Regions from separate parts of the Homo sapiens genome. Here region 2 is linked to region 1. Evidence: fine-mapped expression QTL. A gene starts in region 1. The other region holds a variant in brackets. All regions are shown on one strand. Distances are from middle to middle.

Region 1 (8,347 bases):
GGTACTATGCCTTCCTTTCTCTATCCCTCAGTTCAAATAAAAATCTGACTGTGTTCAGTTATCTACCTTCCTCTCTTTGGCCCTGTGCTTTAGAGAAGGGCTGTCCCAGGCACAGGTAATACATCTTGATTGGTTTAAAACCTGGCCAGTCATGGTGGCTCACACCTGTAATCCTAGCACTTTGGGAGGCTGAGGTGGGTGGATCACCTTAGGACAGGAGTTTGAGACCAGCCTGGGCAACATGGTGAAACTCTGTCTCTACAAAGACAAAATTAGCACGACGTGGTGGTGCATACCTGTAGTCCCAGCTTCTCGAGAGGCTAAGGCATGAGAATCACTTGAACTCGGGAGGCAGAGGTTAAGTGAGCAGAGATGGAGCCACTACACTCAAGCCTGGGTGACAGAGTGAGACTCTGTCTCAAACAAAACAAAACAAAACAAAACAAAACAAAACAAAACAAACCAGTTATGGTAGAACCATAGTTCTTGTGAATAATTGGTAGATATATGAGTATGTGACCAGGTTCTAGCCAATCAATCAAAGGGATAATCTGCTGCAGAACTCCTGGGAGAGGTTTGCTAGATCCTAAGAGAAACTCATAGGAGAAAATACCTTCTTCCTTTGGAAGTAATGGTAACTGAAAATGATGCTTGAATTTGCACAGCCATCTTGTGACCATAAGAGGAGGTACCTGAGTATAGTATGATTACTCATTGTGTGTGTCAGGAGAGTAAGGAGGAAAAAGAACTGATTCCTTGATATCACTACTGGGCAGATGAATCGCTATTCCTGGACTCATTGTTATGTGAAACATATTTGTTTTTGTGGCTCTTTGAGTGCATTTGCTAGTTTGCATAGGGAGGCCAGATTCAACTAATACAAATGTAGGGTTTGCAATTCAATTTGAATTTCAGGTAGACATTGAATAATTTTTTAGTATATGTATGTCCAGTGCAATATTTGTCCCATGCAACATTTGGGACATGCCTATACCAAAAAATAAAAAATTGTTGTTTATCTGAAATTTAAATCTAATGAGGTGTCTTGTATTTTATCTGGCAATCCTAAGCTTACAGTAGAAAGCAGTCTACTTAATTCAGTAATGAAAGGATTTTCTCAGGTCTTATTAGGTCTGTATACTCTTTTAGAAGTGAGGTGAAAGTAGATTTACCAGTCATAGTTTAAGTACACATATTTGAATTTCAGCTTCATATTCTCGAAAACTAACTTTAAAAAGTTCGAAAATTTTCCTCTTAAGTCTTGTCCAACCAGATTTGAAATTTTATTGTAATGCAGATAAACAGTGGAAAGAATCAGACAGATCTTAGAATCTCAGCTTCTTTATTTACTACCTGTGTGGGTCTGGCAAAAATCAGCTATCTGAATTGATTTCAAGTATCTCAACATATAGTTATGAGGAATTAATAAGATAAATTGTGAGAAGCACCTATTATGTCAGACACATGTAATTTGTTCAAAACACATTAGGTGTCTATCCCATATTAATTGTAAAGTACTGGCTTAGGAGTACTTGTGAGGGTCTTGTACTAAGAAGGAATAGCAACTCATACATCCAAACTCCTGTGTTATCCTTTTTCTCTCCACAACTTTAGCAGAATGAATAGAATAAGATATGAACAAACAAGCTGCCATACGGAGTGAGGAACTTGTATTCTCTTACATATAGCTGAGTTTTACTCCTGACACTGGGACTGACATGTATGTGATTCCTTGTAAATGCTTATTTTATTACTTTTTGATGTCATTATTATTGTTATTATTATTATATAATAAGAAAGGATAGTTTTGCCTTTTCTTGGAGGGTAAGAACTTGTCTTAGTATCTTCAGCATGAGGCACAGTAGATACCACCACTGAAATGATACTTATTGGAGAACACCTGGCCACAGAATTGGGTTCCTGACTAATGGGTAGTAAATAGACCATACAATTTTCCTAATATGTTATTACATATTCAAATTTTTATGTGCATATTATGATATTTCTATCCTCCTTTTGTTCACACACACAAAAAAACAGATCTCACAGAGAAAAATATAGAACCCTCAGAATGACAGCTGCGATGTGAAGTCTTACTGTGCTTCCACAATTCTGGGAAAGAGAAGAATTGGAGAGGGAGGGAAGAACAGCTGCCTTCAAGTAGTTGAAGGGCTGTCATATGGGAGGAAGGCTTGCTCATGCCATGGACTCCAAGGGCGGAACTAAGGTTGAAGGGTAGAAGTTAAAAGGTGGTATGGTCAAGTTTAAGCAATAAAAACTGCCCATTACTGCAATGTCTCAAATGTGGTGAGGTCTCCTCTACTGAAATGTTGATTCACTGTCTCTGATGACCATTTATCAGGAATATTAGAGCAGTAACTACAGCTCTGTTTTCTTCTTAACTTGTAAAATGGGGATAATAATCCCAATTTATCGACTCACAGGAGAGGGATTTGATCCAACGAAATCTAAAGAGACCCTTTTGCTAGTTTTTAGGCAGCTGTAAAGCCCTCGTTGCAGGGTTTTCAAATTTTGCTGCAAACTAGAATTACCTTGGGAGCTTGGAAAACCCTGTGTGTCTAGGCCTCACCTGCAGAGACTCCGATTTAAGTGGTATCAGGCATGCCAGAGAATTAGGGTTGTTTCAAAGCTCTCCAAGTGATTCTCGTGTACAACAATTTCGAGAACCATTAAACTAGAGTACTAAGAGCCATTATTCTGGATTTTACTTTGGAATCTAGGTTGGACTACAGATGTGACGTTGAGCAACTACTTTATCTTGGATCTGTATTTCTTGTTTACCAGGAAGAAGAGGACATGCATACTTCTAAAGTAACTTCCTCTAGTATTTTATTACTTTAAGGCAGTTGACCCTTAAAGGTATACGAATTAAGGAAAGGGCACTTAACTACCTTCTAGGAGTAGAAGAGGATCTCTGCTTTGACACATGGGAATTGTTGGCACTCTTTTTCTCAGTTTTAATAGCAGTCATGGACTCCTTTCAATGCGGGGATGTTTATACCTCTCCGGGGAATGTATGGCACCAACAGCATTTGGATGGCTGGTTGTTTCAGCAGTCCTTTGCTTAAAATAGGCATGCACCCTAATTTGAGAAGAAACTGGCAGAGGATAAAAGTGGGTTTCTTTGCTCTTCCCCAGTATTCTAGAAGCTGCTTCATTATCAGAGTTGGAGTCATCTGATGGATAACTGGACATGTTTCTTGGTGTTTTTTTTGTGTATGGCTATACTTCTTTATACTCTTTTGGGTTGCTGTCTTACATACTGCTTAGTGACTTGCTTACCAATAATTTTCCTAGCCTAACCCAGGACAACCATGTTGTCTTTTGGTCTTGACTTTTCCATATGAGACTGCATGTCTTATTGTCACTCCAGTCATGCAGCAACTAACTCTAGACAGGCAGTCATGGACATAGGATTCCATTTTTTTTTTTTTTTTTTTTTCTGCAAGGAAATCCAAGGACTCCAGTTATTAGGTCAAAGATGTTGCTCGTATTCCAGGTAATTCATATTTGCTGGTGAAGTTTTATTTGCCATGCAGTGCCCACAAAAGTAATCCTAGAAATGAGCAGTACTGTGAGGCATAGCACAACACATCCACATTTTATGTGGAGGATATGATCCAGTGGCATTTTATTTAGTGTGAAACTTCTGTCTTCTAAAAGGGAAGATTCTTTTGGAAGGATGGTCTCCTGCTGTGTAATACTTCATGAATTTCTAGTTTAAAAAAATTAGATTTTCCAAAGATCCACTACTATGTACACATTTCAAAATAAATCACCCAGTTAACTCAAAACAATCTTATCGTGAGAAATTTTGGAAAGCTTGAGTTACTTCTAAGAGTTAAAAATGTTCTTTCCTCCTCTTCTGCATGTCAGACTGCACATGATTACTCTGATGTTTCCGTAAATGCTATTAGTGCACTATGAAAGTGGGAAAGAACTTAAAAAAAAAAAAATCCGGGAGGGCAACAAAGCAATAAGAAGGATCATAGGGCACCATGTTAATAACAAATCACAGGAGGTGGCTCCATAAAGGTTGTGAAAACTAGTTTCTCATTGCAGGAATTGGGTTGGGCCACCCCTTCACCCCCCTTCTCAAACACAAATATTATCATATAATAAAAGCCTGCTTCTCTATGCTTATAACCCAGCCTCCATTCCTTCGACGCCACCATTTTAAAGGGATTTACTGCACGGACTTCTCCCAAGTTCCTAGGCATTATCTTCTGGACCCTATCCTGCAGAGGTGAAGCGTCCCTTTGGGGACTCTCGCTGGGTGAGAGGGACAAGAAACACCCACTAGGACCCAACCCCGGCAGCCAGCGGCTCGAGCATGCGCTGAGAGTTTGTGCAGCTGGCCCTGGCTGCCGCCGCTGCCTCGTCCGGACTCGGAGAGGACTTGGGAGGGACAGCGGCGCTGGGAGGTGGCTTAGCAGAGACTTTCCAGCAACTGCTGCCCAGGACTTTTTTTTTTTTTTTTCTTTTTCCCAGGAGGCGGCGACGGCGGCGGCGGGGGGAGAGGAAGAGAAAGAAGCGTCTCCAGCTGAAGCCAATGCAGCCCTCCGGCTCTCCGCGAAGAAGTTCCCTGCCCCGATGAGCCCCCGCCGTGCGTCCCCGACTATCCCCAGGCGGGCGTGGGGCACCGGGCCCAGCGCCGACGGTAAGTGGCCACGCGTCTGTCGCCTTTCCTGCCCGCTGTCCCGCCAGCCCGCCGGCGGCTGCCCTCCGCGCTGTGTGCTAAACTACTTAAGGGCTGGCTCTGGGGCTCCCTGCCGCCGGCGCTTCCCCTCGCGCCCTGCCGGGGGCGCGCGGACGCGATGGCTGGGTCGGTGGCCGCGCTCGCTTTGTGCTCCGCGGGCGGCTTTGAGCGAGGGGTCGCGGGAGCGTCCCGGGCGGGGGAAGCGGGGTTTGAATGACTAACCCGGCGTCTGCACAGCTGCATCGGCCCTAATTCCCCGGCGCCCCCCGCCCCCCGCCCACTGTCCCAGGCTAATCCATCATTCTGGGGCCGAAAACATCATTTCTCACGTTCTCCCAGAGAAACCCTAGTAGCCGGGCGGAATCTCAACTCCGCGCTGCCCCCTCGCCCCCGCCCCCGCCCCCGCCCCGCCGCCCCAGTCCCTTGCATTCACACCCGAGCTGCGGGACGGGGTAGAGGGGTGCGGAGTTGGAGTGCCCAGGAACTGTCCTAACTAGAAGGGCGCTCATTCTCTCGGGCTTGCCGGTGGCGCCTCTGACGTGTCCGGGGTAGGGGGCAGTGTGGTTTCTCACCTTCAGGACAGTGCCGAGCACAGCTGTCCTCGAGGAGGGGCGTGGAGTGAGGGAGGTTTTCAAGAGCGTCTCATCAGAATGCACAGGGCTCCGCCGCGTGTCCCCTGAGAACGCGAGTTTACTGTGCGACTTCATTCATCCGGATAGTTGCTCTTTTCTTTTCCCAGCAGGTGTTATCTGAAGCCGGTTTGGAACTTTTGGGAGTTTAGTTACCATTATGATTTTAACAAATGATTTTTGATGAGGCGATGTCTCGAATGCACTGGGCCTCGGGACCCTCTGGACCCTGCTGAGGGCGGGTGGAGGAGGGACGGGCAGGCTGTGGGAAGCGTGATGGTGAGATGTCCCGTGTTCTCTCTCCCCCGCCCCCTGCAGATCGCTGCCGTTTTGCCCTTGGGAGTAGGATGTGGTGAAAGGATGGGGCTTCTCCCTTACGGGGCTCACAATGGCCAGAGAAGATTCCGTGAAGTGTCTGCGCTGCCTGCTCTACGCCCTCAATCTGCTCTTTTGGGTAAGTAAGTTTCACTGCACCAACAGGTGGGAACGGCTGGCTCTGGTTTTCTGCAGCCACCGGATAATGCGCCAAAGGGCATGGCTAAGCATTAATTAATTACATGGGATAACACCCTTTATTTTTCAGAGAAGTAAAATTTGACCTTCTTAAAATGCCTTTGATCTAGCTCAAGTTCCATTTGTAATTAGAACAAAGAAATCCACCCCTGGATACTACTGGCAGTAAAATTAGACTTGAAGTTAATCTAGGGATATAAATAAATGCACGTGCTTCTACTCATAGATAAGAAAATTATGACATACTACTTAGGGAACTGCTTGTTTGCGGGAATTTTAGATAATTGTGCAAGCCATAAATTGTTTCTTTACATCTCTGTCGCCTGTAAAATCTAGTTGGGCCAAGTCTTAATATATTTTTTGTGGGCGGGGACGAGGGGGAGGTGGTGGTGGAATTCACACCCAGATAACCTATCACAGAAAGGCTGAGTAGATTTGTCTAGGGGATTCCATACGGTCTGAAGGGTGATTTTTATGTAACTAATTCTAAGTTGGCAAAGTTTAAGGAATTGTGTGTATGCTTTTGGAAAATCCCATAACCATTTAAGGAAATAAAATACATAAAATGTAACAAGCTCATGGAAATCTTTATGCCCTATGAGTTAATGACTTTTTATGCTTTAAATCTTAATAAAGTATGATTAATAATCGTATTATTACTTATAAAACTTAGGAAAATGTAACAATTTAAACAGTAAATGTTGCTTCAGGAGGCTGCCATTCTTAAGCAAATTGTTCTTTCCATTTTTTTGTGTTCTATTAATAATTTTATTCAAAATTTTCTGTTACAAATTTTATTGTGCAATTTATTTATGTGGCTGACTGGCTGGCGTGCTGACTGGCTGGCATTGCCCAGCCTTTTTTTCATAGGGCTATTACATGTGGTCTCTAGAAGATGACATTTAGGTTGAACTGCACCTTATAGATGGCCCCATTTTAAAGGATAAATTAAGTCTTACTTCAGTGAGTAATCTGAAAATATCTAAAATGGCAGCATTCCTTTTCTCAACATTAAAGCATTAATTTCTCAAAATTAAAGCATTGGGTAGTTAAATTCACCATTTGGAAATGTAAAATCACAAGTTGATCTTATTGTAGTTTATACTTCTTAAAAGCTTGATTTTTAAGTGAATCATTAAATTACCTGGATCATTAAAAGTTATTAAGAGTTTAAACTCCATTTCTTTAAGATGTATGATAATTATCACTCCTGTTTACTAGTTTTTCACTTTTCTACATTGTGCTTTTTAATTATAGAATCATCACATTCCACTTCTAAAAGGAGCTTTAAAGATGGCCTGGTTGAACGTCCTTCCTTTGTGAGTGAGGAAATTAAGTGCAGATTAAGTGACTTGCCAAAGATCAGATAGTCCAATGGTGGCAGTGCCAGGAACAGAATTCAGCTTTCTTGCCCCTAGACAGTGTCTTTCACTTGACCCTTACTGAGTTTTGAACCTTAGAATTACTAAGATTGTTGTTGTTGTTGTTTAATAAAGAATAAAGCTTTGAAAAATTTGTTAATACTTTACATTGTGTGGGAAAAAAGAACCAAATCATTCAACAAAAATATCACTCCTCTTGGAAATGAAATTTGCATAAAAGCACCTATTCCTGAAACTCTTCCAGGGCTCTTTGTGTCCCCAGAGAATGTAAACGTTATTTCTTTGTTGTTACCCTGTACTTAAACCTTCTAACTTTCTATGTTTGTGTGTGGTGTGTGTGTGTGAGTGTGTTCTGGTTTATTGACTTATTTAGATTGCTTCCCTATTTCTCCAGCCCTCCTCTTCTCCCAATATCACCTACGCTTCAACAAAATAATCCAGGTTAAGCATCTTGTATACGTTTTTCTTTATTTTGTTTCATACAAAGATAGATTTACTCATACCTGTCCACAACAGATACACAATGCTATACATGTAAATTCTTGATTTTTTTGCTGTTAAATTAGTTTCTCATTTGGGTTAGAGTCATAGGAGTGGAATTGCTATGTAAAAAAGTATGTGATAACAACAACAAAAACAAAAGTAGCCAACCTATCTAACTAACATACAAAATAGCTAACGCTTCTTACTATGTTTGCCAGGCACATTTAGTGTCTGTTTCCTAGCCTGTAAAATAGGAATCATAGTTCCCTATCTTTTAGAGTTGTGAGGAGGATTAGAGTTAACATATATACAGCGCTGAGAACAGTGGCACATAATAAGTGCTATCTCTGCAATAGCAGTATTGCAGTTATTACTATAACTACTACAATGATGATGATGTTCTAGCAGATTACCAGGAGGTGGATTGCTACTATCATTATGGTACTAATCATAGTAATTGTTACTGTTATGATTAATACTGCTACTATTGCTACCACTACTGCAATTCCTTTGACCCAACAATCTTGTTCTGGGTATCTGTTCCCTAGAAATAAAAGCAGTAATTACCCCATTATATGTACAAAAATATTTGTTGCCATCTTGTTGGTAATATGGCACTT
Region 2 (8,347 bases), 53 kb after region 1:
TGGATATGGGCAGAGGTTCAAGTCCAGGACAATCTCCAAATCTGGCTGTGTACAACTGTTGAGATGGTAAAAATTATCATTGTAACACAGATTTCCTGTTTATTTAAGTGCTTCCTAACTTTGTTTATTTATTGTATATTTGTGCTAAAAACAACACAAAGAGAAAATAAGCATTAGGAAATTTATAGTAAGTTATGTCAGCTACTGTCCTGAGTAGATGCTGCCCAGAGCTCGTTATTTTCTGGAATTTGTGATGTAGACAGTGATAATCCAGGTTAAAAAACAAAGTGAGTTTTTTTCTGATGGAAGCTGCACCTAGATGGACAATGTACAAGTACTGCAAATGATAGCACACTTATTTTTAGATTTGTTACATGGTAAGTTTCCTCCTCCATTATCATAAGACTATTTTATGTAAATGGAGATGGTGAAGACTTCTGAGAACCTGAGGTTTTTAAAATCCCTTATATCCCTTATATTAGTTTGCAATGACTGCTTGCGGATGGCCATCTTCTCCCTGTGTCTTCACTATGTCTTCCATATATATATTAAATATATATATATATTTAAATACCCTCTCCTAATAAGTACATCAGTCATACTGGATTAGGGCCCACCCTAATGACCTTATTTTAACTCAACAATCTCTATAAACTCTATCTCCAAATACAGTCACATTCTAAGGTACTGGGAGGTAGAATTTCAACATATGCATTTGGGTGGGGGACCCAATTCTAGAATAACCTGTATTGCAGAAAGCAACTTTATCAGGTGCCAGTCTCCTTTGCTCCTCATTCAGTGCAATTCTATGCACATACCGCAACTTAGCGGACTCTCACTTAAGCCCCAGTGACGTTTGTTTAATACGTTTTTAGAATACTAACTTTAAAAAATGTGTTTATTTATTTATTTTAACATAGTAGTTGGAGCATAGGCTTTGGAATAGACTGTGCCACACTCTGGCCTGTAACTTTAGCAAGCTACTTGACTGTCAAAGGCCTCAGTTTACTCATATGTAAAATGGATGGTATTTTCTAGAGCTTGACACATTAGCAAGAGTAGTACTATCTCACAATATGATATTAAAGTAGACAGGAAAATGACAAGGAGATGTAGACCACAGTAATATGTTGGTATGATGTTGGGCTTACTTAAAGGAGTTTTCAGAAAAAGTTTCAGAATAAATTCATTATCTTCTGTTGAAGAAGGACAATTATATACAAATGCTTTCTAAAATAAAAGTAAGTTCAGCACTGAGCATCGTATACTTATAATGAGAAAGAACATTATATACTTATATTTGAGAAAGTCATTTATGTAGAATATCTTATTTCCTGACAAAGCCATATAAATAGGCTGTTCCTTGCTGGATGGAGCTAGAGAGTTCCAAGAACTGTTCTGTCATCAACACAGAAAGGACTCATGTCATTAGCAAAGGAGACAAATGGATTTTCTTTGAGTGCAAGAATTTAAAAAGATGGACTTGGAAAGTTAACCTTTCCTTGTTTATGATTTTTATGAAGTGAAGTCTTTATACTACATATATTATTTAAGGATATTTAATGTCTTATGTAAAATATGTGACATCAAATTATTGACTAAATTTGTGATGTTTATAGTATACTCATGACTTTGAGAGCAAGTTTAAAAAGGAAAAATATATATAAAGTATTTTTTAAGTTTCTCAAAATTTCAGTATTACCCATAGCTTTCAGTAATTCGTCATTTATAATACTCTTAAGATGATTTTTTTTTCTGTTTAAAAATCAGACATTTAGGCCAGTGTAACAACGCAAAATACTTTGTGGTATTTTCATTGTTTCCTTTTGCATGAGAAGTTCGGAATTCTTCAAAGTTAATTTTAGTTAAATTTTGAAATGGTGGGGGATTGTGATATTTTATGATGCAATGTCAAACCTGGACATAGATTGATCTGTTGGACTGCATAATTTGCATAGCCAGTCACTCTTGGCAAAGTTCTCAGTGACTGCCCATAGTCCTTGTTTCTGGCTAGAGGGGAAAGAGCAACCTCCTTCTCCACTCAAGGACAGAAAATTATTCATCATAGTTAATTGTTCTGAATCTAATCTATAGAGGTCCTTAAGCAGTGTTTCCAAACCTTGATCAGAGACAGTTTTTGCTAATCTTTGGAGAAATAAGATAAAAAAGTAAAAATGTCAGTATAGTTTTTCTTAAATCCAATTTTATTCAAGCTAAAGGCACACACACCATTTCTTCTGAGATTATGGTAATAGAATATGAACATTTATTTCAAGAATCTTACTCAGTTGAATAAACACCAGTTGGCCAGACCTATGTTTATTTCTTAAAGTTTTTGGATATTTTACTAGCTAAGGAATCGATGTCTGCTAACTTTTTGTGATGTGGGCTTTGGTCAACACATGTTTTTACAAAGATTACAGAAACTTTTAATATAATATTTGAATATGTTGGGCAATAGAAAAATTTGATTAACTGGCCTTTGGTGGTTAGAGGTTTAATGATTAAAGTGTCACCTACTTGGGTTTGTTAGTGTGTATGTTCAATCTGTTGCTATGTATAGTCACTTGTAGATGAGCTTACAGTTAGGGAGTGAGTCTCAGTCATGCCTGATTTGTTTTTATGTGTTATGGGCATTATTACTCAGAATACTTCCATTATGCAATCGTTAGCCATGGTGTTCCTTTACTACATTTCTATCATCAACATAGACTGTACATATATCATTAGGTGATGACAGATATAGCTCTGGGTACAAAAATTTTAAAAAACTGATGTTTAATCTCCTATAAGTTAAGAAAATATTTTTGTGGTTTCTGAGGCTGACTAGTGATTTTTTTTGCAGTTTAAGTGCTGTGGAGTAGTATATTTCACTGACTGGTTGGAAATGACAGAGATGGACTGGCCCCCAGATTCCTGCTGTGTTAGAGAATTCCCAGGATGTTCCAAACAGGCCCACCAGGAAGATCTCAGTGACCTTTATCAAGAGGTGAGGCCATATATGGTTAATTTATTATGGATAAATGTTTTCTTAGGAATAACTTTAAAGAATCAACAATATGCCAATGAAATTTTCCTTCTCTGTCTAAATGTAAAAGGCCTTAAAATTTTTCTCTAATATGGGGAGAAGCAGAAGAAAGCTAAAAAACAATATAAAAATCTAAACATTAATCACATTTTAATAAAGGGAAGTGGGAAAGACCAGGTTTTGTAATTAATTGGATTTTGAACTGTTTTGTTTTGAATCAAGTTCCTACTGCTTGGGGATCCTTTGAAACAGACACAGGCAGAGTATGTAGCTAACACTGGATGTGCAAGAAGCAGAGGGTTTGGAGTTCCTGGACAGAATACGTATTTTAAGAGCCTCCACATAGACCACCAACACATAGAAGGGGAAAAAAAAGAACCTCTCCAAAGAAAATGCTACCATGCTACTCTCCAGCTCCCCCTGCTGGCTAATGATTAGTGATGTCAGTTTTAGTTCACTGATTAAGTTTTATGCTCAGTGGCGGTAAAGTCAATCCTCATGTGGCCAGGAAATTTACATACTTGTGTTTTCTGGGAGAATTGATCAGAATAATCAATTACTCCATTTTAGCAGAAGTTTTCCTATTCATTCATTTTTACTGATTATTTTCAGACTTTGTTAGCAGTAAAATTCTATTTTCAGATTAAAATCTAAGACTGCACTGTCCTCTACAGCAGCCAAATAGCTACGTGTGGCCATTTGAATTAAAATTAATTAAAATTAAAATATCTGTTCCTCTGTTGCACTAGCTACATCTCAAGTGCTCAACTGCCACTTGTGACTAGTGGCCCCTGTCCTGGACAATGCAGATGTAAGACATTTCTATCATCACATAAAGTTTTGTTAGGCAGTCTTTATCTAGAATGGAAATGTAAAATGTGAATCAGATAGAAAGGAAACTGCTTAGGCTAAGGGGTTGGGATCATTCCCCACATACACCTCTTGTCAAGTACCTGGTATCACAAGGCACTGCTCACACTATTCATAATATAACTCATGTATATATAGTAGGGCTATAAAGAATGAAAATTTAAAACAAAGCAACAGGATTTATAACACCTGCATTTTGATATATTTCAAGGTGGTTATCTTAGGAGGTTATGCTTTTTATTCCTAAGAATACTACCATTCAAAACATCTTTTAGACTCTCTGCCAAAGGCAGTTGTTGAGATGGGCAGTCAATTTATATTGTAAATTAATTAATTTGGATGTTGTAATTAATTAAAAGAATGCTGTACTACCTATACAAGTGATCCATTATATTCATAGATATGAGTAACTCTGGGCTGTTACTCATATCTCAGAAGACAAGAATATGTCACCATTTAAGGATATCCAAAATAAAGTGCTTTGGGCTCTGAAGGCATGCCCCAAAGGAGAGTGCCAAGTATTTTTTAGGAGTTTAAAAATTGTTATAATTTCCTAGAG[C/G]TGCCATAACAAAGTCCCACAAACTGAGTGGCTCTGACAACGTAAATTTATTGTCACAGTGTTCTGGAGGCTAACTCCAAGATTAAGGTGTCAGCAGGGTTGATTCCTTCTGAGGGCCATGAGGAGAAATCTATTTCATGCTTCTCCCCTAGCTTCTGGTGGTGTGCTGACAATTTTCCTGGTTCCTCGTCTTTTAGAAAAATCACCCTGATCTGTTTCATCTTCACATGGTGTTTTCCTTGTCTGTGTGTCTCCAAATTTTCCCATTTTATAAGAACAACAGTCATATTGGACAAGGGGCCCACTGTCCTCCAGTCGGACCTCATCTTAGTTACATCTGCAACAATCCTATGTTCCAATAAGATCACATTCTGAGGTACTAAGCTCTTTAACATACGAATTTTGGGAGGACATAATCCAACCAATCACAAGAATTATTCAAACAGTTGAATAATTCAGGCTTTTTATTTTAAAAGATGATCAGAATACTTTTTGTCATGCTCACACTGCTGAGAAGCATTATGTTTGGATGTTATTGTTTTATACATACTTTGTTTAGAAACATTTGGCTTTGAATGAAAAGGAATATACAAAATATAGTTTATTGAACAGAAAGTTGTTGTAGGTTAGTGTCTGTAGGTTCTTCAGTGATTATGGCACTGAACCTAGTTCTTTTGTTTTGGGTGAAAGCTGAATATTGGCTAGTGTCTGTAGTAGGAATCATCAACTAATAAATGCGGCAAACTCCTGCTTATTCCATAAAACGGAAAACAGTACTAATATTTCTGAGGTAGTATTACATATAAACATATTATGGATATTCAAATATACTATAACTTACTATTAGACATTAAAAGAACAGATGGCTACAGTATAGTTAGAAGTATAGATGTGTAAATTGAAACCTACCAAATTTCCTAGTGTGAATTGTCCATTTGTTAGTTTTTACTGGTAGCGAGTCAATATGGACAATTATTGGGCCACAACATTATGGTATAATTTGTATCTGCTTTAGTGATTAATACTGATGATATGATTATAACTACTATTGATCATGAGATCAACTTACCGGATCTTCCCATAAAGTCTGAATATGGACTAATTCTCTTCAGTTTTGCTTTATTTAGCTGAAGACTGTTCCACATTAAACATTTAATATAATTTTATTGTTGTAAAACTGCAATTCATCCTCACTGCTTTTCTTAGATTGTTTTCACTAATAATACTACTTTATAAAGGGATGCTTTACTTTTAGGATATCTATAATTGCTTGCTCCATGAATTTTGAAATTGAAACAAGCCATACTATTGTGCATGTGCAAGTTGATAGCCCAGATTATTTTGAAATTTGTTCATATTTTTATCTGAAGAATTTTAATAGCAAGCTGGCATTGTCAGCCATGAGATGTTCTTTAGACACAGACTTCCAGCTAAGATGGGGGCTTATTATATCAGAGTAACCTGCTTTTGCATTTTACAACTAATAACATATGCTGATATTGGTAATTATACAGTATGCAATTATATGTATAGTTGATTTACAAAAGAGGATCATTTAGTAGTTTTATGGCATAAGTACAATTAAATCCATAATTAAAAATAAGACATAATTCTACTTTGCCCTGGAGAACATATGTTTCCTAATTACGGTGTGTCCAGAGATCATTCAGTAGGAAGATGAGGGTTCCAAAAGGAGAAATAAGTGAGGAACAGCTGGAGGTATTTGGGATGTTTATTCAGAAGTTGAGAGCACTGAAGGGAGATAGTTGAGATGTGTTCAAATATTTCAAAGTTCATAATTCAGAACAGGAACTAGACTTACACGTTGTTGCTCCAAGGGCCAGAAGTTACAGGAAGGAAATTTTGAATCAATAGAAGGAAGACCTTGCTCATCAAAATCCATCCAATTGTGAGACAGGTTATCTTGTAAAATAATGAGTGTCTCATCACTAAAAATATTGAAGTCAAGGTCAGATAACCATGTCATTGGTAGTGTAGAATGGGTTTTTAAATTAAGAATGAATCCAGACTAGATGAACCGCAAGGTCTCTCTTATCTTTCATATTCTGTAAGCTCAGAGATAAAAACTGGCTTTTTTCCTGCAATCATTCTTCAGTAGTCTGAAGTCAAGGAAATAAATCATTCTCAACCATCTGGTAGCCTGCATGGTCCCTGACCCAATAATATTTTATGACGCATTTGGAAACCTGTGAAAAATGACAGCAGAAATATAGCGACAATTGCACATTTAGAAACATTCAGGAGCCTTGTTAGGTTTGGCACACAGCTCTTCAAATATCCATAATAAGCTACAAACTTGTATTAAAGTATAGGTTTAAAAATCTATAATGAAAATACCTCTGACCCTCAGTTTGGATCTATCACATTCACTCATTCAAAATGATGATACGATAACCAATATTCATTCAGAATATTTTGTGATTGCCTACTGGGTTCCATTTGCTCTTCTAAATGCTAGGGATATAGTAGAGAGTGTTGCAGACAAAAATCTCTTCTCCTATGTAATTTATATTCTAGTTACGGATACATACGTTTAACAAGAAAAAAAAACAGCAATAGAAAATAATTTCAGGTGGTGGTAAGCACTTTGAAGACTCTGAACAGGGTAATGTGCTGGAGCTTTGTTGGTGAGGGAGTTACTTAAGATAGATTGTTAGGAATAGGCCCTCTTAGGAGGTGATATGTGAACTGAGACCAGTTGACAAAAAGTAAGCACCCATGCTGGGGAACAGTGTTTTGGGCCGAGGAAACTGCAAGTATAAAGGCCCACCCTTGGGTGGTCTGGGCCCGTGATTACTGACAGCCCACTCCCCTGTTCTTTGGAATCACCTGTGTAACCACACTCTAAATGCGAGGTGTAAGACTTGGCCTTGGCAAAATATCAGACTCAGAGTTTAAGTTGGCAAAGCACAAGCCTATGGTATCTCTTGTCTTCTCTCACCTGCTGAGTTTTTCATCATATCAGTTACTGAAGTGCAGTGTCTTGACTTGATCTGGAGAAGAGAAGCATAAATAAAAGACATAAAAGACAGCAGTTAGAAAATAAGTCTTTATAGAGCTGGGACACTCAACCTCTTGCCCATGGACCAGGGCTCTTCTTGGATGGACTTCAAGGAAAAAATGATACTGCAAAAATTGTTTTCAATATTTTATATCCATTTTTTTTCCAGGAAATAAGAGCCATAGCTTTCCTCAACTCTTCTTGGGGTTCCATATGTAAGAGAATAAGAAAACACAGTTGTAAAGAATAGTTGCAGCACTTACTGTCTCAGATAGGAAACTTAGCATAAGTAGCCCCTCAAAAAGGCTGAAATGCCATTTTACTCCTCTGTGTGCTACCTCAAGAAAAATAAATGGAAGTAAACAGGCTCACAATAGGCCCTGCTTCAAATGGACTGACTCAAAATGTAAAACAAAGAGGGACAGAACGTCAACTAAAATATACCTCCAGAGACACATTTCTTTGTCTAGTAGTTAGAAGAAAGACTACTGTTCAAATATATTGGCTGCTTCTTCAGAAAAGTAGTATTCCCACAGATTTATGTAAGGGCTGGACACAGACATGTCCTCCACACTTGTGTGCCTTTGGGACACTTTTCCTTTAGACCCTCAGACTTTCTGTGTTCCATGTGTTGGGTTACAGTTTTAAATATTCTTAATAATTTCCACTTTGACAAACCCATTTATGCCTCTTTAGAAGTTTATTTATTTCTTCTCCCAATGCTAGAAAACATTGACAAATAGAGGAAATTGGGAACAACAGGGGGTGTGATTTTGAAGGGATGTGACGTTTTTCTCCGAGTCTTGGCTTACAGGAAAAAGAACCCCATGATGACAAATGTGTATGGGTTACCAGTGCTCACAGAAGG

Direction of the effects. Alleles are on the strand shown, and positions count from the first base shown. SD is a standard deviation of normalised expression in the study named.
In carriers of allele C in region 2, the expression in tibial artery of the gene that starts at base 4,357 in region 1 tends to be higher than with G alone (moderate effect, 0.72 SD a copy in GTEx).

Evidence for each region.
Region 2: its variant is fine-mapped to the expression of TSPAN12 in tibial artery (GTEx, PIP above 0.99).

What each region holds. Positions count from the first base shown.
Region 1 is chr7:120,854,154-120,862,500 of GRCh38, reverse strand. TSPAN12 (tetraspanin 12) reads left to right here and starts at 4,357. Exons shown (of 8, transcript NM_012338.4): 1 at 4,357-4,681; 2 at 5,668-5,803. The coding sequence starts at 5,738. LOC124901733 (a long non-coding RNA gene) reads right to left here and starts at 5,666. Exons shown (of 2, transcript XR_007060491.1): 1 at 5,293-5,666. RefSeq lists silencers at 4,703-5,002, 5,195-5,414.
Region 2 is chr7:120,801,191-120,809,537 of GRCh38, reverse strand. It overlaps TSPAN12 (tetraspanin 12), which reads left to right. Exons shown (of 8, transcript NM_012338.4): 7 at 2,846-2,989. Among named protein-coding and RNA genes, the nearest start is that of TSPAN12, 53 kb to the left of the region's middle. RefSeq lists a silencer at 3,435-3,484. The variant C/G (reference allele first, on the strand shown) is at 4,458.